7 linked regions of the Homo sapiens genome follow. The protein of the gene in region 2 purifies or fractionates together with the protein of the main gene of each other region. This does not show direct contact. Each region holds a gene or a part of one and is shown on either strand. Other genes may lie near its edges. The genes, in order: RMC1, PLAAT4, PPP1R9A, CCZ1, CCZ1B, MIOS and CASTOR2.

Evidence for each region.
Region 1: the proteins of PLAAT4 (region 2) and RMC1 purify together in Homo sapiens (affinity purification with mass spectrometry; one large-scale study listed by BioGRID and IntAct). This does not show direct contact.
Region 3: the proteins of PLAAT4 (region 2) and PPP1R9A purify together in Homo sapiens (affinity purification with mass spectrometry; one large-scale study listed by BioGRID and IntAct). This does not show direct contact.
Region 4: the proteins of PLAAT4 (region 2) and CCZ1 purify together in Homo sapiens (affinity purification with mass spectrometry, with the first as the bait; one large-scale study listed by BioGRID). This does not show direct contact.
Region 5: the proteins of PLAAT4 (region 2) and CCZ1B purify together in Homo sapiens (co-immunoprecipitation; one large-scale study listed by IntAct). This does not show direct contact.
Region 6: the proteins of PLAAT4 (region 2) and MIOS purify together in Homo sapiens (affinity purification with mass spectrometry; one large-scale study listed by BioGRID and IntAct). This does not show direct contact.
Region 7: the proteins of PLAAT4 (region 2) and CASTOR2 purify together in Homo sapiens (affinity purification with mass spectrometry; one large-scale study listed by BioGRID and IntAct). This does not show direct contact.

What each region holds. Positions count from the first base shown.
Region 1 is NC_000018.10:23,524,011-23,527,510, reverse strand, and holds part of RMC1 (regulator of MON1-CCZ1 complex), read right to left. Parts: intron 3,382-3,500; coding exon 3,337-3,381; intron 3,083-3,336; coding exon 3,029-3,082; intron 875-3,028; coding exon 746-874; intron 1-745. UniProt on the Homo sapiens protein: Component of the CCZ1-MON1 RAB7A guanine exchange factor (GEF). Acts as a positive regulator of CCZ1-MON1A/B function necessary for endosomal/autophagic flux and efficient RAB7A localization.
Region 2 is NC_000011.10:63,543,308-63,546,807, reverse strand, and holds the end of PLAAT4 (phospholipase A and acyltransferase 4), read right to left. Parts: intron 2,188-3,500; coding exon 1,919-2,187; intron 660-1,918; coding exon 552-659; 3' UTR 350-551; downstream 1-349. UniProt on the Homo sapiens protein: Exhibits both phospholipase A1/2 and acyltransferase activities. Shows phospholipase A1 (PLA1) and A2 (PLA2), catalyzing the calcium-independent release of fatty acids from the sn-1 or sn-2 position of glycerophospholipids.
Region 3 is NC_000007.14:95,271,094-95,274,593, forward strand, and holds part of PPP1R9A (neurabin-1), read left to right. Parts: intron 1-2,805; coding exon 2,806-2,893; intron 2,894-2,991; coding exon 2,992-3,075; intron 3,076-3,500. UniProt on the Homo sapiens protein: Binds to actin filaments (F-actin) and shows cross-linking activity. Binds along the sides of the F-actin. May be involved in neurite formation. Inhibits protein phosphatase 1-alpha activity.
Region 4 is NC_000007.14:5,908,733-5,912,232, reverse strand, and holds part of CCZ1 (vacuolar fusion protein CCZ1 homolog), read right to left. Parts: intron 2,199-3,500; coding exon 2,117-2,198; intron 373-2,116; coding exon 311-372; intron 1-310. UniProt on the Homo sapiens protein: Acts in concert with MON1A, as a guanine exchange factor (GEF) for RAB7, promotes the exchange of GDP to GTP, converting it from an inactive GDP-bound form into an active GTP-bound form.
Region 5 is NC_000007.14:6,819,776-6,823,275, forward strand, and holds part of CCZ1B (vacuolar fusion protein CCZ1 homolog B), read right to left. Parts: intron 2,590-3,500; coding exon 2,506-2,589; intron 167-2,505; coding exon 1-166.
Region 6 is NC_000007.14:7,583,884-7,587,383, reverse strand, and holds part of MIOS (GATOR2 complex protein MIOS), read right to left. Parts: intron 1,749-3,500; coding exon 1,579-1,748; intron 1-1,578. UniProt on the Homo sapiens protein: As a component of the GATOR2 complex, functions as an activator of the amino acid-sensing branch of the mTORC1 signaling pathway. The GATOR2 complex indirectly activates mTORC1 through the inhibition of the GATOR1 subcomplex.
Region 7 is NC_000007.14:75,027,205-75,030,704, reverse strand, and holds part of CASTOR2 (cytosolic arginine sensor for mTORC1 subunit 2), read right to left. Parts: 3' UTR 2,674-3,500; coding exon of another isoform or gene 2,626-2,673; 3' UTR 1-2,625. UniProt on the Homo sapiens protein: Functions as a negative regulator of the TORC1 signaling pathway through the GATOR complex. As part of homodimers or heterodimers with CASTOR1, directly binds and inhibits the GATOR subcomplex GATOR2 and thereby mTORC1.

The sequences.
Region 1 (3,500 bases), on a different chromosome or scaffold from region 2:
GCTGGGAGTTTGAGACCAGCCTGGGCAACAAGGCAAGACCCCATCTATACCAAAACAAAAACAAACACCAACAGCACATATTGGTAGGGGATTATTATTATTATTTTTTTTTGGATACAGGGTCTTGCTCTGTCGCCCAGGCTGGAGGTACACTGACACAAACGGCTCGCTGCAGCCTCGTCCTCCCGGGCTCAAGGAATCCTCCCTCGGCAGCCTCTGGAGTAGCTGGGGCCACAGGTGTATACCACCAAACTCAGCTAATTTTTTTTTTTTTTTTTTTTTTTTTTGTAGAGACAGGGTTTTGCCATGTTGTCGTCCAGGCTGGTCTCGAACTCCTAGGCTCAGGCAATCCTCCTGCTTCAGCCTCCCAGAGTGCTGGGATTATAAGCATGAGCCACCATGCCTGGCCTCAGTAGGGGATTCTTAAAGAAGACACATATGCAGTGAGTGGCTTGGATTTTGAAAGAGGTGTGTGTGAAGGCCAGGGGTGGTGGCCCACTCCCCTCCTGTGTGCCCACTTTCATTCAGAACCATCCCATTTATTGTTCTTTTCTACCAGTATCTCTACAAATCATCTTTCCATTTAGCAGCCTTTCCTAGGGGGTCACATAGCCACCCCTCACATAAAGAATGAGGCTGTGGGTCACAGACAAGACACAACAATGTAGCCCACATCCCGATAAAAAGTGTTGGGCAGCACAGGCCTCACACTGGAATCAGAGCAAGGGGGAAGGATTCAACTTACTCTGTGAACAGACAGACAGGATGACCATCTTGCATTCCTTTCTCTGGAGGAGAAAGTCCATGAGTCTTCCTTTGTCTGGTAAGAGATTTACTATGGGCTCAAGTTTCACTTGGAGGTTCCAGAGGTAACCTGGATTTTAAGAGGCAGCAAATAAAACAGTATGATGCAAACCGTAACAAAAGCCCAAAAGTGGTTCCCCTAAACATCTGCGGGGCGGGTGGCAGGTGGTGATAAAAAGCCGCAAAGTACAGTCAGTGTAGCTTTTCCTTCCTAACCAAAGCAGAGCTGAGCCATTCAGGAGCAATTCAGGAGCGTGTCTACCACAGGAGGATGACAGCCCAACCACCGCACACCTGGCTGACTCTTTTCCAAGTAACCTCTGCATTCAGGGGCACATCAAAGGTGTAGCTCCTAGTCCTTCATTCCAAACGGGGACTTCCCTAGACCTAGCCCCTCTTTTAACGTTTAAAATAGAAAAAGATGTCAACACGTGGCATCAACTTCAGTCCTGTGCTTTGGTTTCTCCTACAACAGCTCATTAGTTTAAAAGGTAACTCCAGAGGCTCTCAATGGAACATCATAACTCATCCATTCATCGACCCATAAATGTACTGATCACCCACACTGCCAGCATCTGGTGTGGCCTTTCCCAATTGGGATGCCACAGGAGAATGAAGTGCCACATAAAAAATCATCTGGGTGACCCCCTTTTCAGTTGGCCCAAGGCAGGTACAGAGCAGCTGTACAGGAAAACACCAGCGAGATGCACAGGAGAGAAATGACTTCATTACATACATACAGTGGATGTCACATGAGGCTATGGGTTACAGACAAGGCACAACAATGCATTACATACAGTGGATGCCTACAGCATCAGGGCTAATTCTCTCCTCAAGAGTTCTTAGGAATTCCAGAGGAAAGGCAGGAAAATACACAGAGGATTAAAGAGTAACATAGGAGATTCTCTAATAACCAGCCTGGCGAGGTATTAGAGACACAGGGGCAACATGGCAAGACCCTGTCTCTACAAAAAAAAAATTATAGGCCGGCTGTGGTGGCTCACACCTGTAATCCCAGCACTTTGGGAGGCTGAGGTGGGCAGATCACGAGGTCAGGAGATCGAGACCATCCTGGCCAACATGGTGAAACCCCGTATCTACTAAAAATACAAAAATTAGCTGGGTGTGGTGGCGCATGCCTGTAATCCCAGCTACTGGGGAGGCTGAGGCAGGAGAATCGCTTAAACCCAGGAGTTGGAGGTTGCAGTGAGCCGAGATGGCACCACTGCACTCCAGCCTGGTGACAAAGCGAGATTCCGTCTCAAAATAATTATTATTATTATTATAATAAATTAACTGGGCGTGGTGATGTGCGCCTGTAGGCCCAGCTACTTGGGAGGCTGAAGCAGGAGGATCGCCTGAGCCCAGGAGCTCAAGGCTGCAGTAAGCTGAGATAGCACTACTGCACTCCAGGCTGGGTGACGGAGCAAGACCCTGCCTTAAAAAAATAAGATTTCTTTAGGCCGGGCACAGTGGCTCATGCCTGTAATCCCAGCACTTTGGGAGGCCGAGGCAGGCGGATCACCTGAGGTTGGGAGTTTGAGACCAGCCTGACCAACATGGAAAAACCTCGTCTCTACTAAAAATACAAAATTAGCTGGGCGTGGTGGCACATGCCTGTAATCCCAGCTATTCAGGAGGCTGAGGCAGGAGAATCGCTTGAACCCGGGAGGCGGAGGTTGCAGTGAGCCAAGATCACGCCATTGCACTCCAGCCTGGGCAACGAGCAAAACTCCGTCTCAAAAAAAAAAAAAAAAAAAAAAAAGATTTCTCTAATAAAGAGATTACCCAGGAAGAGACAATTAACAGACTGAGGAGGCTTCCTCAGCAAGGCCAGAAAGAGGAGCACACCTCCCGGGCTCATGCAGAACAGAAAAGGGCACGGACACCGGTGGGAAGGTCGATGGGAGAAATGAGGGAGACACCCTGGGGTGGAGTCCGGCTTTCCATCCACCCTGGGGTGGAGTCTGGCTTTTCCAGAATGGGCTTAAGCAGGAGAATGGCATTCTTAGTTGTTGCTTTAATTATTAAAAGTAGTATATGTTCTTGATAAAATGCACATATAGTAAAAAACGTATAAAGTGAAAAAAAAAAATCCCATTCCCACGCTTGAAAGGAGGGGTCATTTCTAAGAGATTCACCTTGAAAACGTCCCTGGCTACAACTGGGATCCAAAGTCAACAAGCACCATGTTGTAACACGACAACTGTCCCCGCTGACCTACCTTGGCTTGCGCTGATAATGATGTCAGGTTGAAAGACAATCCAAGATGAAGAATCCACATGTTATAGGAAATTCTAAACCAGGAAAAGATGAAAACAAAAAGCAAACCCAGTTTCCGCTAGCACTCGCCCCTGCCCACCATGTACTGAGTCCACGCTAAACGCGAGGCCCCTGGACAGTCAGGGAAGCTGCCTGCGGGGTGGCTCTCGGAGTGTTATTCACAGCTGCCCGGAGGAGGACTTCAGGACCACTCTCTGAGGGTGACCACTTGCCCTGTTGTGCACGGTGCCACACCTTAGTAAAGGATACAGAGTTTACATGGAACAGGAGACTGGCTGGTCACGGCAGCAGGACCTACAAATTGAGAAAACATAAGTGCAACGATGCAGTCAGAAAATGCTGCAAATGCTGGTACTTATGACACAAAAGTCAATACTTTTTAATGTCATTACGAAATGTTTATTCAATTGTAG
Region 2 (3,500 bases):
TTAAGCACCACATGAGACGATACCGGAAGGTAATTAGGTTTTTTTCGCCTCCCTGAGAGTAAAATTAATGACATGCAATTATGTCGCTGTTATGTCTGTGTAGAATGATGAAGACAATTCCTTGAACATCTGTTACATATCAGACATAGTGCTGGGTGTCGTGTATGCATTATCGTAGGTGATCCTCCTGACATCACCTGACATGGAAGAACTGAGGTTCTGAGAATCAAGAGCCTTCTCTAAAGTCACCCGGCTAGAAATTGCTGGAACTACCCAGTGAGTGTTCACTCAATGTTACCTTCCTCCTTTGTGATTCAGAAGTCTATAAAAACATGGTAGAAGTCCTTTCTGAAGGGGCAGATGGCTGTTTATTGATCCTTCAGTCTTGTTTCAATTAGATCATACTTTTGCCAGCGAGAGAGGGAAACAGAGGAAAGGATCTAGAGAACGCCTGAGACAGGGCACGAGGGTCAGGCTGCTGGAGGCATGGGGGAGGCTCATCTCCACTGGGACCCCCACAGCTGCTTCTAACACAGGATTTTGTGGCTGCTTCAGGCTGTCGCTTTTTTTTGGTATCTCCTAATCGCAAAAGAGCATCCAGCAACAACCAGGATTCCAAGCGCCGTGGCCACACCGACTTCAACCTTGGCCTTTTCCACCTGCAAAGCAAGCAGCTTTTGTTGAGCGTTCACGGCAAGCCAGGCTGGCACTTTCTCCCTCCCAAGGGCCTGGAACTCCTCTCCCTCTCCCCTCTCTCCTGCCTCCCCTAAGGCCTGGCATCTCCTCTCTTCTCTCCCAGCTGGCTGGCTCAGAATCCTCTCCCAGAGAAGCCGTTGGTTGTATCCCCAGGGACTCCATTTTCTGGGCTGTGACCACTTCTTGGTGTTCGACTTGTCTGGGCTTGTCCTGAGAATGGGCCCATGAGGTCCTTTTGAGAGAGCTTCCAAGTGAGGACATTTGTTCTGATTTGGGGCAAGGAAGAAGGTTTGTGCCTCGCTTCCTAGGGTCAGAGCTCCAGGGGCCAGACTGGGGACTATTTTGCAGTCTGGGTCCTCCCTGAGCTACACCTTTGCACAGGGAGGGCTGTGGCAGAAGCTGAGGGGAGACTTAGGGAGGCCATGGCCATATGCGTGCCCTGGGGTCACTGTGTACTATTCCCAACTGCAGCCTGGAAACTTCCATCTCCAGCTGTACTTCAGCCTAAACTCCATGCCTTATCTCCACCTGGGCCTCTAATGGGGCACCTCAGACATCACATGCCACGCCAAACTCTGGATTTCCCTCCGCAAAGCCTCTACTCCTGCCACCATCCCTCTCTCATCAAGGGCCCCCAACCATTCAGTCACGCAGGCCAGGGGCCCTGAGTAGGCATCACAGGCAGAGACTCTAGAAAGGGACAGCTGGGGTTCAAATCCCGGTTCTGCCACTTATTAGTTGAGTGTTTTGGGGCAACAAATGTGAAAGACTGTGAAGGGGCAAGGGATGGAGGCTGTGCCCAGATCTTACACACAAATGTCCTTGAGCTCTTACACAGGTCCACGGACCCTGAGCGTCCCTTGCCTGAGTACTCTTTGGGGGGTTGCAGGACCTGTCATTGTCCTGGGTTGGCCCAGATTCTCCTGATGACCCCCAGAACTTCAGGAGCCATTTTCAGGATAGGTTTTAGAGGGGAAGGATCCTCAGAGCTCCTCCATCCACCCCCTCCTCTGCACATGGAGAGGCCTGGGGGGAAGGGAACTGTCCAAAGACCCTCTGTGGATTAGAAGCAGATCTGGCATTGGAGCTCAGAGGTCCTGACTCTCAGCCAGCAGGTCTCTAAGAGGCTGCATTTGCATCATTCACAGTGATCGCCTGGCTGCACAGCCCCGTGAGTCCAGCCCCAAGCAGAGGGAGATGGATTATCCAGAGAGGTCCTTACCTGTTTACAGCGGGACTTGCCATATCTCAGCTGGGTGACAAAGTGCTCACAGTTCCTGCTCACAATACTGTACTTCATCTTCTGACCAACCATCTCCTTCGCAGAACTGATGATCACCTCCACGGGCCGTGGTTGGTACTCATGGTCCAAGCTGTTGTTGACCCGATAGCAACAGCCTCCCACCACATCTTCCAGGCGCTCCCGTTTCACCTCTGCACTGTTGCTCAGGACTGAGAAGACACTGGAGGAGCCAGCCCCGGGGTACTCACCTGCAATCAGAGGCACTCTCACTGGCAGGGGAAGGTGAAGTAGGGAGAGAAGGGCTTGAAATCTCCACTAAGGAACTACTGGTGTTTATCCTTTCACAAATGTGATTGAAGGATTCACAGATTTTGCTTTTTTTTTTTATTTTGATGGAGTCTCACTCTGTTGCCCAGGCTGGAGTGCAGTGACGCGATCTCAGCTCACTGCAAGCTCCATCTCCTGGGTACACGCCATTCTCCTGCCTCACCCTCCCGAGTAGCTGGGACTACAGGCACCCACCACCACGCCGGGCTAATAGATTTTGCTCTCTTTTTTTAATAAAATAAGGTGTGAATGTTCGTTCAAGTCAGTGAATGTCATGATTGCCAGTGGCTGCTGCCATATTCCATGCTATGCATGTACATCACTTCTGTGGCCAATCCCCTGTTATCCGTCATTTAGGTATTGGAAAAATTTTCATCATTATAAACAATGATGGTAAAGCATATTTATTACCTGTTCAGCTTTGTACACTTGTGTTTCGGAAAAAGATCCAATTCGTTTAGTACCCACTGTTTCAGTTACCATGCTGTGCTGTTACACATACTTCCTAATTTAATCTCCTTTTTAACTTTCAAGGAAAATATTATCATCTCAATTTAAAAACCAATATTGGGCTGAGAGACATCATGAGACTTTTCTGTGCTATGAAAAGTCCTAGAATCAGGATGTGAAACTGCTTCTCTTAAGCCCCAAAGGGCAGGCTCCTTCCACTGCACTGGGCTGACCCTGAGGGAATCCTTTGTAAAGTGTCTTCTGTCCTACAATCTGGCACAGTTCTAGGCACATAGAGAGGAACACAGAAGAGCTGTCAACCAATGGAGCCCCAATTCCATTATATAGTGACTCCAGGTGTTATCTTATTTTTATTAAAATGGATAGTACCTAATGCACACAATAATTAGGTGTGTTACCTCTTTTGCCCCGTTTCTAATCTCAAGGCTGATGTTTGCATTTAGAACCCTCTTAAGAAAATCCTGTTGGCTGGGCGCAGTGGCTCATGCCTGTAATCCCAGCACTTTGGGAGGCCTAAACAGGTGGACCACTTGAGCTCAGGAGTTCGAGACCAGCCTGGACAACATGGCGAGACCTGTCTCTACAAAAAATACAAAAATTAGCTGCGCGTGGTGGCACACGCCTATCATCTCGTCTCAGCTATTCAGAAGGCTGATGTGGGAGGATCACCTGGCCTGAACTCGGGGAGGTCAAGACTGCAGTGAGCCTGATCCCTTGCATGTGCAGTTCCCAATGGGGTTTGCACTCCTATGAGAATCTAATG
Region 3 (3,500 bases), on a different chromosome or scaffold from region 2:
CAGGCACATATCATATGATTTAAAGGTACAAGGCTATCCCAGCCTGGCTGTAGCAGTTTGCTTATGCAGGGTGGAGTAGTTACACACAAAAGTGAGCCAGTAGGTTAAGTATATAGCTTTAGAAGTTAAACATCTTAGATAACTTGCCATATTACTAGGAAACCACAAGAAGTTTGACCAGAGGAATAAAAAGGAAAAGACACCACCAGGTATGGAGAAGCTGAGTTAGGAGACCCTATGAGGTGGTGCCCTCTAAAGAGGAGCAGTAGACAGTGACAGGAAAGAATGATTCAAGGACCCTTGAGACATACCTTGACTAGGTAACAGGTAAGAAAGTGAGGCAAAACTATCATGGGCTTCACGCCTCAGAACATATGGTCTTGTCATTAACAGAAAATAGGAAATCAGCAACATGATGGGGGAAATAGGATTAACTCATTTTTTTAACAGAGGAGGTCATGAGCGCAAGAGAGAGGTCAGGACTGCCAGGTAGATTTGGGAGTCCCCATTATAAAGGAAGAGATAGTCAAGTATCTTATTACAGTGAGATTAAGGAGATGCAGTCCAGTACAAGACCTTAGGATTTGGCCATCAGGAGATCATTTATTATTTGAAAATGAAAACCAGGTTGCCACAGCTTAAAGTTGAGGCACCCAATCTGGGGGCTCAGATGTATAATTGGTCACAAAGGTAGTATTGGAGAGATTTTAAAAAGCCTAACAGAAGTCTTACGTAGAGCTAAATAAACAAAATGTATGTTTCTTTTTTCCTGAAATCATACCAATCTAATGTTGGATTTTATGCAGACTAGAAGTTCTAGTGTGCATTAAAGATGGATTTAATCGATTTTAAATGGGAAAGTACATTATTCCTTATTCTTAACATCTTCAGCCCTATGGAAGCATTCATTTCAGTGTTCCTGGGAACGCACTTTGGCAAATGTGTGAGATAAAGATGTAAGGTTGCCTAGCACCAAGCTCTGTGATAGGCAGAATCAGGCTTTTAGTCGCATGATGTCCAAATAACTGCAACACTCATGGGTTACAGAGTGTTTTCGTGTACATTGCCTCAGCTGGTCTTCTCAGCGCTCATTGTAACATCTCCCAGCTACCTCTCATTCAGGAAATAATTAGGCAGTCTCCTTTTAACTTTGCATAGTCCTAGCCATTAAGAGTTGCTTTAGGATTGATCTGGAAGAATTTGGCACTTTCTTTTCTTCAGCTTCTATTAAGAAAATTTAAATCTTGCTTTTAAAAATAAAATCCATTAGTAAAATCACCTTAGAAGGTGTTTGTGCCATGTCTATGTCTATGGATTTTTTTATATGATTGTGTCACATCTGTGACAATTCAGTTACCCAAAGAGTAATGATGCAAATATGCATAATAAATATTTGAGGCTTGAAGTGGATTTTTGACACAGACATATTTCTGACTCTTGTGTTTCATTATGTACATTTCAGTGAGTTGCTTATTGTAATCTAAGTATCATTAACTAAAAATATGAAAAGCTCATTGCTAAAAACATTTGGAGTATTTGTCAGTGTCCTGTGCTGCTTGAGAGCTTTGAACCTAGACTGCTATCCATGAACTGTGTGTGTACTTCATGTTTTTTAAAGGTGTATGTCGATGTGTGTTGAGAAATTTCTCTTGAAGTAAACAAAAATCATGAGCAACATTAACCTGCAAAGTTAATTGAACACTTTTTTAAGAGGGCCATTCTCTTTGCCTTCCATACTAGAAAGTTCCTAGAAATTTAAAACACATTTTAAAAGATAAGAGACAGAAAAACAGATACCAAAAAAGAACTGGGGAGGAAGAGTTTCACACATAAAAAACATCAAATTTAAAACAGCATTTGTTAATCATCTGAGCTAATTGGATATGCTGAAACGTGATGCCGATCAGTACCCTCTGCTGAATAGTTTGGGTAGAGCCTGTCCGAGATGGAACAAGTGCCACCAGTGGAATTGGTTCCCACCTTGACATTGAACTCCATTTGCAAAGCCTGTCTTCCTATTGGCTTTTGGTATCATTTCGAGGGTCCCCATTCCCCAGCAGCTGCTACCTTTGAGAGTCCTAGAGGCAAAGATCAGTCTGCTCTGAACACTGAGGAGATTTTGGCATCTTCCACATTAAGGGGAACCAGCCAAGTTTTGCTGTAACCTAACTATTAAGAAGGCCCTTTCAAAGATATAAATGTTTTGTAGCTGAGCCCCTGTTTAAGGAGTCTCCCCCATGTCCTCCCCTCCTCTGTTCCAGGACCGGCCACAGGCCATTAGCAAAGGAGAGCCAGAGAAGAAAACTTTGACTCTGACTTTCCCCCTAAATCTCCCAGACTCTCAGAGGTGATATTCTGCGCTGGGCTTTGGAGATACGGGAGAAGTGGGCTATGTTCCTGTTAGAAGGCACTACAACCCCAAGGCAAGAAAGGAATGGAGGACAGAGCCCAGGCACTTGAAGCCAAGAATTTGGAGCCAGAGAAGGAACAAAAGTCATGTTGGTCCCTACTTCGAATGCAGAGGATGATTTGAGAGTATTTATTCTCCCTTGTTCATTCCCATGCAGTTGAAGCTAAAACTCTTTGTGATGAATGTTGAGCCTCTGTCCTATAGAGGACCTCCCCTGCTTAACTGCGAGTTCCTCAATGTAACTGTGTCTCCTAGGTCGTATAAGAAGGCATTGATTATTTATTTTACAATTAGGAATTTAGGCAAAGCCCTTAGATTCAGAGATGCATTGACTTTTGAATTGTGACTTTAAAAATAATAATAATTGATCTTTTTCACAAATGTGTATATCCTAGATGATGCCAAAGATCCCAAATCACTAAGGGCATCCAGTTCATTGGCGGTGCAAGGAGGAAAAATTAAGCGGAAGTTTGTGGATCTGGGGTAAGCACTTCACGATGTAAAAAGAAAGCCCTCTGTAAAAGGAGGATTGAAAGAGAAAATTTCAGCTTCCCCTTTCTGACTGCTTACTATCATTACAGGGCGCCTTTGCGAAGGAATTCCAGCAAGGGAAAGAAGTGGAAAGAAAAAGAAAAAGAAGCCAGTAGGTTTTCTGCAGGTAGCAGGTACGGTTGTGTGATTAAGAACACGTGTATTTCTATACCTAAACTTTCTGGCCCCCTCTTCTATTGTTAACCAAAATCAGTGGTCAGTATCTTTGAGCTAAAGTGATATGCCAAGAATTGAGATGGAAGAAAAATTGCACAATTAGTTTATATTGGTCTTACTCCAATTATAGCCTCCATCTAGCCTTGGGCATATCCATTGGTTCTTAATTGCAGAATTATGGCCACATGAACCATTTCAATAAGTGTTTATCTAAATTCAGCACAAATATATCTATGTGATACTTCAGAAATATCAAATATATTTATGTGATACTTCAGATTTTTTGCCTGGCTACCCACAATGCTAGTGCATTGTATTAAGTCTAAAAGGATAATCATTTTGCATTTAAGTACCTTGTTGACATTCAAGATTGTCTTGTCCA
Region 4 (3,500 bases), on a different chromosome or scaffold from region 2:
TAATCCCAGCACTTTGGGAGGCCAAGGCAGGTGGATCACTTGAAGTCAGGAGTTCAAGACCAGCCTGGCCAACATGATGAAACCCTGTTTCTACTAAAAATACAAAATGAATTACCCAGGCATAGTGGCTCATGCCTGTAGTTCCAGCTACTTGGGAGGCTGAGGCATGACAGTCACTTGAGCCCGGGGAGGCGGAGGTTGCAGTGAGCGGAGATCTTGCCACTGCTCTCCAGCCTGGGTAACAGAGCCAGACTCTGAGTCAAAAAAGAAAGAAAACCCAGTATCATAAATCAAAGAACAGAAGTCCTACCTTCCATAGTGTTGAAGATTTCCTGGCATTTCTGCTCTTATTGGAGAATCCCTTCCTGCTAACTGCAAATACATTTAATGTTGAGAATGACTTATCAGACTTTTTATTTATTTTCCAAGCTTTGAAAAACAGCATTATCTACTAATTGGTTCCATGCCATTTGTCTTTTTCTTTTAGAGACAGGATCTTGTTCTGTTGCCCAGGCTGGAATGCGTGCAGCATGATCATGGCTCACTGCAGCCTTGAACTCCTAGGCTCAAGCAATCCTCCCACCTCAGCCTCCTGATAGAGGCATGTGTGACCAAACCTGGCTAGTTTTTAAATTTTTGGCCAGGTGAGGTGGCTCATGCCTATAATCCCAGCACTTTGGGAGGCCAAGGCAGGCAGATTACTTGAGCCCAGGAGTTTGAGAATAGCCTGGGCAACATGACGAGATCCCATCTCTACAAAAAATTAGCCAGGTGTGGTGGCACACACCTGTAGTCTCAGCTACTTGGGAGGCTGAGGTGACACGACCGCTTGAGCCCAGGAGTTTGAGACCATGCGAGTCAACAAAGTGAGACCTCGTCTCTTAAAAAAAAACTTGGAAAGCAGGAGGACAAGAGGGAGGGAACGAACAAGCGAAGAGAGTGAGTTCAACTGAGCCAAAATGATTTTTGTATGTTAAGCTCTGAAAATACTTTGGGGAGAACACAGTGATATCATTTAAAAGTTCTCTGCAGGAAACCGGGAAATTAAGTACTAGAGTGGAAAGCCGGGTAGGCACTAAAACATCTACTGAAAATTAGGTCTCCTGTTGATAGAGGAAAAGACTACACAAGTCGATTGTTTTAAAGATCACTGGCATTTTAAAGGTTCCTAGAACCCGATCTAAAATCCAATTTTTTGGCCAGGAGCAGTAGCTCACGCCTGTAATCCCAGCACTTTGGAAGGCTGTGGCGGGTCAATCACCTGAGGTCAGGAGTTCGAGACCAGCCTGGCCAACATGGTGAAACTCCGTCTCTACTAAAAATATAAAAATTAGCCGGGCATGGTGGCAGGTGCCTATAATCTCAGCTACTCGGGAGCCTGAGGCCGGAGAATTGTTTGAATCCAGGAAGCGGAAGTTGCAGTGAGCTGAGATTGCACTACTGCACTCCAGCCTGGGCGAAAAGAACAAAACTCTGTCCCAATAAATAAATAAATAAATAAATAAATAAATAAATAAATAAATAAAATAAAATACATAAATTAAAAGTAAAGTAAAATCCAATTTTCCTCTACTCAATGACTCACTCCTCTTAAAAACATGCTTGTGGACTGGGGGCGGTGGCTCACGCCTGTAATCCCAGCACTTTGGGAGGCCAAGGTGGGCAGATCACAAGGTCAGGAGTTCGAGACCAGCCTGGCCAACATAGTGAAACCTGTCTCTACTAAAAATACAAAAAAATTAGCTGGGCGTGGTGGCAGGCACCTGTAATCCCAGGTACTTGGGAGGCCGAGGCAAGGAGAATTGCTTGAACCTCTCCATCCCAGGCGAAAGTTCGAGACTCCGTCTCAAAAACCAAACAAACAAAAACACACACAAAAAAACCAACACACAGACACACAAAACGATGCTTTCTGTATCACATCTGAATGTCACATACTGGAGGAGAGCTGCATGTGGTTTTCTGTGCTAATTGATATACAGTGACACAAATATCACAGTAAGACAAAACATACATCAGAAACGATCAGAAACGCCCCCATGCACCACCATCTCACTCCACCTGCCCTCTCTGTGCCCCTGCATGTAATTGTGCGCAGCTATGGTACCCATCATACCTCAGGTTCGATGTGCCTTGGAAAAAGGGAGGTGGTAAGGTATTTGTATAAAATTCTCATGTCATCTTGTTCTAATCCACTCCTGCAACAACAGAAAAGCACTGGGTTAAACGTTTGGAACTGTCTTCTGTCTTTCCACTGCTGTGATAAAGCTCATTAAACAAAAATTTTTTTTTCAAGTCATTTTTAGTAACACAGAATAAATTCTAACTTTTTAAAGTCTAAAGCTACTTAAAACTCAAAGCAATCTATTTTTGTACCTGAGATCAAAATGAGTTTCCTTTTTCCTAAACATAATTCTTAGCATTGAGGTAAATCTGAATTTACGTGGTATACTTTGTCAAACTTTTCCAAAGAATTTGAAGCCCTGGATAAAACTCATTTTTTATTAAAAAAAATTTTTTTTTCTTTTTTTTTTTGAGACAAGGTCTTGCTCTGTCACCCAGGCTGGAAGCAGTGGTGCGATCATGGCTCACTGCAGCCTTGGCCTCCAGGGCTCAAGCGGTCCTCCCATCTCAGCCTCCAGACTAGCTGGGACTACAGGCATGCGCCACCATCAGCTAATTTTTGTATTTTATGTAGAGATGGGGGTCTTGCTACGTTGCCAGGCTGGTTTCGAACTGCTGGACTCAAGCAGTGCTCCCGCCTCAGCCTCCTAAAGTGCTGGGATTACATATGTGAGCCACTGTGCCTGGCCTCATCTTTTTTCATTTTTCAAGAGATGAGTCTCGTCTGTCGCCCAGGCTGGATTACAGTGGTGTGACCACAGCTTGCTGCAGCCACCGATTCCCAGGCTCAAGCGAACCTCCCACCTCAGCCTCCTGAGTAGCTGGGACTACTGGTGCTTTTCTCTTTAACATTATATCAAGAGGCTCACCACCTGACTGCGAAGTTAAGGAAGGTAAAGGGTTAAACTTGAGTCCAGGCACTGGAACTTTATCCTGACCTGCAAAAGGCTACTCCTACAGTCCTGTATTTTACATGCCATTTGAGATAAAAAAAAAAAAAAAGTCACAAGGGATTGGACTCGCTGGTTGAATTCCGTGTAGGATTATGCAGGAAACCTCCAAAGCCACACTGTTTCATTTTAGGAGCAGATGTCTCTTAGCTTCCTGGGTTATATGGTAATGCCACATTCTCTCCCCTAGTCCCCTGGGAAAATATGGGTATGCTGTAGACAGGGAACGTGATCCTAGGTCTCAGAAATGTACATGGATTTTAATTCTCCGGATCTTCGGTGAAGAAAGAGGAGGAGGAGAAAAACAAGCTTTCAGGCAAACCACCTGATCTGAAATGAGGCAGGAAGGAGCAGCACATGGAAAAAGCACAGAGAAACTAGCAGGTATCAGACTCTGGAACCGGTTTTTTAAAAGGAGACAGACAA
Region 5 (3,500 bases), on a different chromosome or scaffold from region 2:
GATCGTTATAGAGAAAAGCAGTGTATTTGACTATATTCAGGCTTTCCTCCATTCTATTAATAAAGGACTGGATTTTCAAATAAGTCATTTTATCCAACGGGAAGAAGCTGATTCCACCAAAAATGTCAAGTAGGTCACATGACTGCAAATGTAGCGTTTGCAAATACTGTGGAAAAAAAATAAGGCATAAAATTTACTAATAGTACACTGAATATAATGCTCCTTGATAACTGAAAATAATCTTATGTCAGACTCACATTTATGGTACAATTACATACTAGCAAACAGCACAACAATGAGGCCGTGGTGAAGACATGGGTGACTGAGTGTCAACTCAGTACCAATTCCAAGATACAAAGTTCAAACTATCTACTTAATGTTTATTCAGTATTGTGTTTTACTGCTTTAAATTTATTTTTTTGTGACAGAGTCTTGCTCTGTCATCCAGGCTGGAGTGCAGTGGTGCGATCTCAGCTTACTGCAAGCTCCGCCTTCCAGGTTCACACCATTCTCCTGCCTCAGCCTCCTGAGCAGCTGGGACTACAGGCGCCTGCCACCATGCCCAGCTATTTTTTTCCATTTTTAGTAGAGACAGGGTTTCACCATGTTAGCCAGGATGGTCTCAATCTCCTGACTCGTGATCTGCCTGCCTCAGCCTCCCAAAGTGCTGGGATTAGAGGTGTGAGCCACCACGCCTGGCCAAAAATTTTTTTTTTTTTTTGGTATAGACAGAGTCTTGCTATGTTGCCTAGGCTGGTCTTGAACTTCTGGCCTCCGTGATTCTCGTGTCTAGGCATCCCAAAGCGCTGGGAATACAGGCATGAGCCACTGTGCCCAGCTAGCACTTTCAAGTATTTAATTCCTGGCCAGGCACAGCGGCTCGCGCCTGTAATCCCAGCCCTTTGGGAGGCCAAGGCGGGCACATCACTTGAGGTCAGGAGTTTGAGACCAGCCTCGCCAACATGGCAAAACCCCGTCTCTAATAAAATTACAACATTAGCCGGGCGTGGTAGCCTGTAATCCCAACTATTCAGGAGGCTGAGACAGGAGAATCACTTGAACTTGGGAGACTAAGGTTGCAGTGAGCCAAGATCACACCATTGCACTCTAGCCTGGGTGACAAGAGTAAGACTCTGTCTCAAAAAAAAAAAAAAAAATTAACTCCCTGCCTTAATGCTCTTCAAATTAGACTAACCTAATGAGGGATCTATCCATTAATACTACAGAGAGTGCCATCTTTATTTCCCCCCCGAGATGGAGTCTTGGTCTGTCACCCAGGCTGGAGTGCAGCGGTGCGATCTCGGCTCACTGCAACCTCTGCCTCTGGGGTTCAAGCGATTCTCCTGCCTCAGCCTCCAGAATAGCTGGGATTACAGGCGTGCGCCACCACGCCCAGCTAGTTTTTTGGTATTTTTTAGTAGAGACGAGGTTTCACCATGTTGGCCAGGCTGGTCTCGAACTCATGACCTCAAGATCTGCCCGCCTCGGCCTCCCAAAGTGCTGGGATTACAGGCGTAAGCCACCACACCCAGCCAAGAGTGCCATCTTATACTAAAATCATGTCTAAATGATATGTACTCAGGACAACAGTTCTATCCATATGTTGACGGGTAAGAGAGAAATGAGGACAAGAACAGAAACCAGGAGATAATATGCGAGTGGATAATTGTGGTCATTAAAATGACAAAACAACAAAGAAAAGTAATTCAGAGAAACAAAAAAATTCAAAAATAGCTATGAAAGCTGTTTTAGAAAGTCGAATTCAAAAATAGATACAGAAGGTATTTTCAGAAGAAAATAAATTGAGAATTGTTGCTTCAAGATAAACTAGGCTAGGCGAGTTGGCTCACGCCTTTAACCCCAGCACTTTGGGAGGCCAAGGAGGGAAGATCGCTTGAAACCAGCCTGGGCAAAACAGCCAAGACAAGACCCTGTCTCTTTGTTTCCTTTTAAAAAAAAAGATAAACTGAGCTTGACAAGGTAGGGTGAAACATGCAAAATTCAATTACAACGAAAGAGGACAGCACTTGGAACAAATCTCCCCAATCGCTAATCTGACAAAGTCTGTCAAGGCCAATAACTCTTACCTACATCAAGACAGTTTACGCCCGTTTAGTGAACAGAACCAATCCCTGAGATTGTGCAACTCCAATAATTAAGTTTTCCTTATCAACTAATCTATCACACAAAAGATGGCTGCTGAGTAAGCCCAGAAGGACAGATGCAGGTAAAACACAGGGAGGCCAAACGATGTCTCCAGGACCCTTTAAGAGCCCCGGGCAAACGCAGGAAGCTCTGCCTTACACCACAGCTGGAGGGAAGGTTCCAGAGCACACGCCTCATGCGTTTCCTCGCTGCTCCAGTTTTGCGACGGTCTGTCTCAGGCTCTTTGCCACTTTCAAGTTCTGGGTTTTTTGTAGATAAGAAACAAACTTGTCTGTCTATATTTCTCTAAAAACCTGATGAATGCTTAGTAAAGTTATAAATGAAATTCAAAATACTTACCCGATGGAAGAATTTCTCTAATCTTTCTTTCAGAAGCTTGACGCCTCCGTCTTCCATGGCTTTCAGAAATGTACCATTAAAAAGCTAGTGAGGTAAAAGATTGCAGAAAAAAAAATCAGTTTCCTATGCTCACTTTTTCAGTATAACAAGTTCTTTTTTTCCTTTAGATTATTAATTCAGCTCATTAAATCTCCCAGTTCTTTCCAACAGAGAATATTTACGTGAGAAAACTTGAGTTAAAAATGTAAGTTACAAAAAATACTGTTAAGTGATGCTGTTTTATGAAACCACCTAATTGCTCTAGGCATCTTTCAAAAATTTCAACTTACCCTTAAGTTTCAATTTACATACATAATATCACCCACATTTCTGTTTTTTTATTTTTCAGTGTTCTGTTAATAAATGGAATCACCAAACTTTTTATCCTTTTTTTTTTTTTTTGAGATGGAATCTCGCTGTTGCCCAGGGTAGAGTGCAGTGGTGCAATCACAGTTCACTGCAGCCTCGACCTCCAAGGTGCGAGCGATCCTCCCACCTCAGCCTCCCAGGTAGCTGGGACTACAGGCATGCACCATGATACCTGGCTAACTTTTATAAAATTTTTTTGTAGAGATGGGGTCTTGCTATATTGCCCAGACTGGTCCTGAATTCCTGGGCTCAAGCAATCCTCCCACCTTAGCCTCCCAGAATGCTGAAATTACAGGTGTGATCCACTGTGCCCTGCCTCACTGAAACTTTTAAATCATAAAATTATCTGCATTCTGTATGTTCCTTGAGCACATAGATACACTTTTTCATCAATGGGGACACATTCCTACTATAAGGCTGAGAAAAGAGAAGGGAGTTCAATACTTACTGAATAAATGTAGGCATAAACCTCACTACCTGTTTCAAAGGCCTCATTATTTTCTTCTCTAAGACAAATACAGAGTCACTTTGCAGTCATTTATAGACTTCTCTTTAAACAACCCTGGAGCCTAGAGATAGGGGTAAGT
Region 6 (3,500 bases), on a different chromosome or scaffold from region 2:
TTCGTACTCAAGATGACTGTTATCTAATAACTCAAATTTATGTATAGCAAAACAAGGATACTGGGGCAGGGCATGGCGGCTCACATCTGTAATCCCAGCACTTTGGGAGGCCAAGTCAGGTGGATCATTCAAGATCAGGAGTTCGAGACCAGAATTGATATTTCTGGCCAACATGAGGAAACCCCGTCTCTACTAAAAATACAAAAATTAGCCGGCATGGTGGTGCATGCCTGCAGTCTCAGCTACTTGGGAGGCTGAGGCACAAGAATCACTTAAACCCAGGAGGTGGAGGTTGCAGTGAGCTGCCATTGCACCACTGCACTCCAGTATGGGTACAGAGCAAGACACTGTCTCAAAAACAACAACAACAACAACAAAAAAAAAAAAAAAAAAAAGGGAAAGAAAAGTACTTATTATGGGTCACTTAACTTAAAATGCAGAAATTTAATATTTAAACAATATACATCTTTTATCAATTCAGAAGTTAACAATCCACTTGTTTATCTAGTCTCTATCATTCTCTAACACTTCGTGAAAGCATTATTTTATCTCTCCAAGATACATTTAAAGTCTTCTGTTTAACAAAAAAGATTAATTACAGTTAAAAAATAAAGTCCTAACATTATACGTATTAATTTGAATTGGTCAGAAAAAGTTCAATAGTAATTTATTAAAAGTAATAAAGTACATAAAGTGCAAAATACACATTTATTAAACATTTCATTAAGCTGCTCCAATAAAATACATATTTTTACAAATTCTTAGGGACTAATCCTTAAATCACTTATTCAAGAAATGTATAATTGATAAGAAATGGTACAGTAGCAAACACAGAAATGAATTTCAGTGTAGAAAGTTCTTCCCACTGCTAGAAAGAAGCCAAGTAGTGCAAAGAAAGTTGTAGTACTATTGTTTAGCTTAAAACCCAATAGCTAAAACTGGTAAGCAAATCTCACTTCATTCTTTCTTTCCCCGTTTTGTGATAAAGAACCTATTTGATTGTGTTATGATCACAGGTGGTTAAAACAGAAGAGAAAAAGAATAACACAAAGACCAAATAAAAAGCTGAAATAGTCCACTGTAAGTACTGTTATCATTCCTAACAGGAACCACAAAGACTAACTGGGACAAGATGTATGGCCACCTCCACCATAACTGATCAATAATCGTGAGTTGTTTTATTTAACTACACACACACACACACACACACACACACACACACACACACGTGCATGTGTGCACAGTGTAAACAGCGAATATATTTTTATGTTTACACAGCTGTAGATTTCTACAGCTCAGTTCTTAAGCTAAAGGATAAAATCTTTATTCCTTCTATATCTGTAAATTATATTAAAACCATAAAAATCAAATCCAGTTTGGTATCAGTTAACTAACTCTAGGACGGGAATCACACTCAAGAAGAGCTGCTCAAAAAAAAAGCCCAAGATGCCTTATTTTAAATAACATATGCATAAAAATATAATATTTTATGCAACAGACATTTGAAAATTTTAATAAAGTTAGATAAAAACTCCTATCTTAATTCAAAGGAAGATCTTAAAAAACAAGTTAGCTTACCAAAACTCCATCGTAAGATCCTGTTTCACTTGTCAGAAATGCAAACATGACACACAAATACGGGTTATTTAGCTGTAATCGCAGTGTGCTACACATTTCTCTCCAAAGGGAGTTCTTCTCATCCGTATAACCCGATAAAGCCATTGCTACCACATTGAGATTCAGATCTCCTGCATATTAAAAACAGCCAGCTAATCAAAGTGATCAAAAGCTTAATATCTCTTCTACATTTCTTAAACCATAAATAGAAATCAGAGGGTGACTTTTACCCTCAGAAAAATGAGCTCAGAGAATAAGGGTTTTGGGCTGCTCTGCCTATGGAGTAGCCATTCTTTTATTCCTTTACTTTCTTAATAAAGTTGCACTTTACTCTTGAAAAAAAAAAAAAAGGGGGGGGTTTGGGTTTTGATTCAGACTGGAAAATTTGGCAAAGACAATAAGCAAAACATTTCTACCCTTATAAAACTCATGCCCATGTGTGCAAACTCTGTGCAGGGAAGCAGATCTTTTACTTTTCAAGTTCTCAATCCAGGCAGGGTCTTATATAAGTTATTCCTGTGTATGTTCCCATATATGTATGTTATTGCTTACTAAATGAAGAAAAGTGAAGTCATCCTACCAGAATCACTGTCAACTTTAACAAGTTTATTAATGTAAAGGTATTTCAAAAACACTTATAGTAAATATTGCATCTCAAGACTGCAATATTCAAAATCATTTTATTTTCCTATTCCTAAATATATAATGCAGACACTTATGTATATAAGTGTCAATGCAAAGTGCAGAAAGTAATATTTCAATACTTTAATTACAGTATTACACTTACAATTTTTCCAGGACAAAATGAACTACAAGAATTACCACAGAACTGCATTTAGACCCATTTGCAAGAAAGCATTTGTTACCAATAGTCTTTTAAACATTTGTTCTTAGCAGTTTAGATGCATGCTGATAAGCTGCTAACTTTGCCTTCAGCAGTATGGCTGCCTAGTCTTCTAACCGAAGTTCAGCTTCAAAAGAAAAAACTGAATTTTCCTTTAACTTTGACTTTTAAGTATTTTCTACACTTATTATATAAGTTTTCTTAATCTATTTCTTGATTCTAATCTTTTTCTTTCTTTTCCAAATAAAGCAGTGTTTCCCACTTTATGTTCTTAACAGCTTTATATTCCTCATTTCTATAAACACTTTCCCAAGTTACTTTGTGCTTGCTTCCTTTGCCTAATACATTAGATTTAAGGTCTTTTAAAATAAAAATAAAAATAGCAAAGAAGTATCTTTGGATTTTGTATAGAACAATTTACTTCTAAATGGAAAAGAATGTTTGACTCAGAGAAGTCTTCTCTTCAGTCCTTAAAATCACTGGAAAGATACATTTTCCCTATTGTTAGTATGGGTGTTTAAATCGACCACCAAATTTCCCAGGTACACAAGATAGGAAAGTATCACCCTTTCAAGTTATAGCAAAATTATAATTAGAAATGGCTTTAAATATCAATTCTTTTTTCCATCATCACCTATTTTCTATTGCACTCTTAAATGAGGGAGACTTTTGTTAGAGCAAAGGTGAAGGAAAAGATGCCAATCTGAGCAAAACATTGACTTTTTTAACTTTTAGACTACAAAAAAAATTACAGTGAATTTCATGTTTTTCTCTATGCTACAGCTAAACTATAATGGTTTCAAAATGGACCAGCAAGTAAGGATTCAGTATTCTGAATATTCAAAAATTATTTTTTAGGTGTACTAAAGACCAATAGCTATATATATTTTAGTTATTTCCAAGCGAAATATTCCTGATAAGAAAAAAACCCCTGAGGTTTTGTATTAGGATTTGTTTTTCCGAGGATCCTCTGGCAAAATGCCAGAGTAAAAAAACCTTATCTCTTTCTTTTTAAAAAATACTAAATGAAAACTGTATT
Region 7 (3,500 bases), on a different chromosome or scaffold from region 2:
GGGCCCTTGAATCTCTTGCTCTGGGGGGAAGCCGAGCGCCATATTGTGAAGACACTCAAGCAGCCCTGTGGGTTGGCCCACCTGGGGAAGGACTGAGGCCTCCTGCCTACAGCCAGGCCTCACTTAGAAGTGCATCCTCCAATCCTTAGCTAAGATTTCAGACAACAGCAACCTCATGAATGACCCTGAGCCAGAACTGCTCAAACTGTTCCTGACACCTTTGCCCCCCTCCAGAGTAGTTCTGACAAGTGGGGTGAGGCCGTCCTACCAGAGACGCCCCACCCTCTCCCCTGGAGCCAGGGTCTGCATTCGAGTCCTGCCCTCACTCACCTAATCATTTCTGCACTCAAGGCCTGACAACAAGACTGCTACTGAGAACTCAAAATACTCCAAGAGCCAGTCCCATATCTCAGGTGTGGGCTCTGCACACGTGCACGCACACACTCTAATGCATAGGAACACATCCACGCTCACAGGTACATGCACAAACGTGTGCATAAACACACCTAGGCCTGCACCCCCACTCCTAGCACACAGGCCACCCTGCACTTCCAATTTCCATAGCTCCTCTTCCCTTATAGTGACAGCCACAAGCTCTCTCGGCCACCAGGCTGTCCCTGGATGCCATGGCTCAGGCCTCAGGCTCCTGCCTCTGCTCCAGGCTGCTCCTGGCTGGCTTCCTTCCCTGGGGCCTCTTTCGTTATTTTCTTGTAGAGGCAGGGTCTTGCTATGTTGACCAGGTTGGTCTTGCTATCTTGGCCTCAAGCTATCCTCCCACCTTGGTCTCCCAAAGTGCTGGGATGACAGGCCTAAGCCACCGAGCCCGGCCTCCTTTGAATGGGCCCCCACCAGGCCTAACCCCCTCCCTCAGCATGGTACCCAAAGCCAATGTCTTTTCTCTGTTGGAGAAGCCCCCCGGCCTCACTCAGGCTCTGCCTATTACACTAACCAATGTCTCCAATGCTCCAGGCCCTGCTCGGAGCGGACTAGAAGGTTGGGGGTGCTTCTTCCCATCCCCATGCAAAGCGCTTCACTCAGGAAGTGGCGTCAAAAATCCCATTGGCCAGGCGGGGTATCTCATGCCTGTAATCCCAGCACTTTGGGAGGCCAAGGTGGGCGGATCACCTGAGGTCAGGAGTTCAAGAACAGCCTGGCCAACATAGTGAAACCCTGTCTCTACTAAAAATACAAAAATTAGCCGAGCGTGGTGGTGGGTGCCTGTAATCCCAGCTACTTGGGAGGCTGAGGCAGGAGAATCACTTGAACCTGGGAAGCAGAGGTTGCAGCGAACCGAGATCGCACCACTGCACTCCAGCCTGTCTCAAAAAAAAAAAAAAAAAAAGATCCCCCCATTGCAGGGCTGAGGTGCTCTTGCCCTAAAGCCCCCTCTCTTAGCTGGGGCTGGGAAAAGCCCTGGTTGTCACCACATCCAGATCTCTAGGCTCAGAAAGGGGCCCAGGGTGGCCTTAGGACTCCCCAGGGTATCCCTGGAAAATGTGGCCAGGAGGAGGGGGCCAGTGGGAGGTGGCCTGTGTTCACCTTTGAAGATCACCAAATAGTGCCCTGGGCTTTAACAGGGGCCTGGCCCTTCCTGTCTTCCCAGTCTTCTCTCCTGACCTCCAGGGCATCCTCTGTCACCTCAGAGGGGCAAGCCCCTCCAGACCAAGCCTCCTCCTGCTGAACAAATGTCACCCTGGCTACGCTGCTGCTTCCGGAGGCCACACTGGAAGCCTCTGATCCCCCAGCTCCTTCCTTTCCCACCAGCAGCCTGGTGCCTGGAGGTGAGAGGAGGTGAGAATGCCAGTGGTTTGGAGTGAGGCTTTGGGTCCCCGCCTCTGAATCTTGGGGAGGGGAAGCTACCAGGGTCAGGCCTGCAAGCCTCTCCAGCTCAGATGCATGCCTCGGGCTGAGGACAGTGGTGTGGGCAGTGCCCCTTGAAGGAGGGCGGTCCTGGAGATGCCCATGGAGGAAGGAGGTGCAGAGTCAGCAATGCCCAGATCTTTGCTGGGTTAGGACGACGGGCTGAGGGAGGAAGGGGTGTCTTGGGAACCAGGGGAGCCCCACGACGAGGCAGAACTTATCAGTGGCAGGGAGGGGTGGTCACTGCTCTGTTCCTCCCCATCCTTCAGCTCCCACTGGTACTCTGAGTGCAGCAAGGGGAGAGGGTGGGGTTGAGACTATCTGAGCTTTTCTTAATGGAGAACCACACAGGGGCCAAGACACACACTCCAGGAGCTCAAGTGGCAGCCCCAGGGTCACCTGCTCACCCCTAGAAATTCCATGAGGCCGGGCACGGTGGCTCATGCCTGTAATCCCAGCACTTCGGGAGGCCAAGGTGGGTGGATCACTTGAGGTCAGGAGTTCAAGACCAGCGTGGCCAACATGGTGAAACCCCGTCTCTACCAAAAATACAAAAATTAGCCGCGTGTGGTGGTGAGTGCCTGTAATCTCACCTACTTGGGAGGCCAATGTAGGAGACTCGCTTGAACCCAGGAAGTGGAGGTTGCTGCAGTGAGCTGAGATCATGCCACAGCACTCCAGCCTGGGCGACAGAGCAAGACTCCGTCTCAAAAAAAAAAAAAAAAAAATTCCACATCATAGAGAGCCCTCTTCCTCCCCCGCCAGGCACCTGCCCCATCCGCCAGCGCCAAGACAACAGGCCCACTCCTCTGATTACCTCCGGGGGATGGACGGCAAACAGGTAAGGAGTTCCATGCAACTGCGGATGGAGCCCCTCTGAGAAACACATGCCCCTCCAAGTGGGGTCTGGGGCCTGGAGAGACCCTCCCACCCAGCAGACCAGGAGATAGCTGGGGGACAAGGGCAGACGGCCCCTGCCTGGGAAAAACCACACTCACACCCCACCCCGAAGAGCTGTGGAGACCAAACCAAGACTACGCTACACACAGAACGCCGAGAAGATAAACCAAGCTTTACACGAGCAGGATGGGGATGGGAAAACTAAAGGGGCCCCCTGTGACCGAGGAGCAGGGTCCCCAGGGGGCAGCTCCCACGGAGCGGGCTTGAACAGGGACCACCCCTGCAGAGCCAGCCAGGGCGGAGAGCCATACCCTGGCCCCAGCGCGCCCCGACACACATGCTTTTCTCCATGACACGAGGCCAGTCCCCAGGAGCAGCCCCAGGAGCACAACCTGAGATTTCTAAGCTTGCAGGTTACAAAAAACAAAAAAAACAGAGAAGCTGCCTGCGTAAAAAGTGCCACCCACGGAGGCAGGACACAGGCAGCGTGTGGCCCATTCAGCAGGCCCAGGTCTTCAGGGTGAGGCTGCTGGCGAGGGCAGGGGAGAGGGGGCATTCTGGTTAAAAGCAAGAAATTCCAAATACTCCTCCCTCGGGATCAACATCCCCCCAAATAAGGGCGCCCAGGGATCTTGCCTGGGGAAAGTGGGGTGCAGAAGGCATGACCCACGCCACAGCGGGCTCTCAGCACCCTTCCCACGTCCCATGTCACAGGCTCTTTGAGCTGCTGGCTTTGTTCT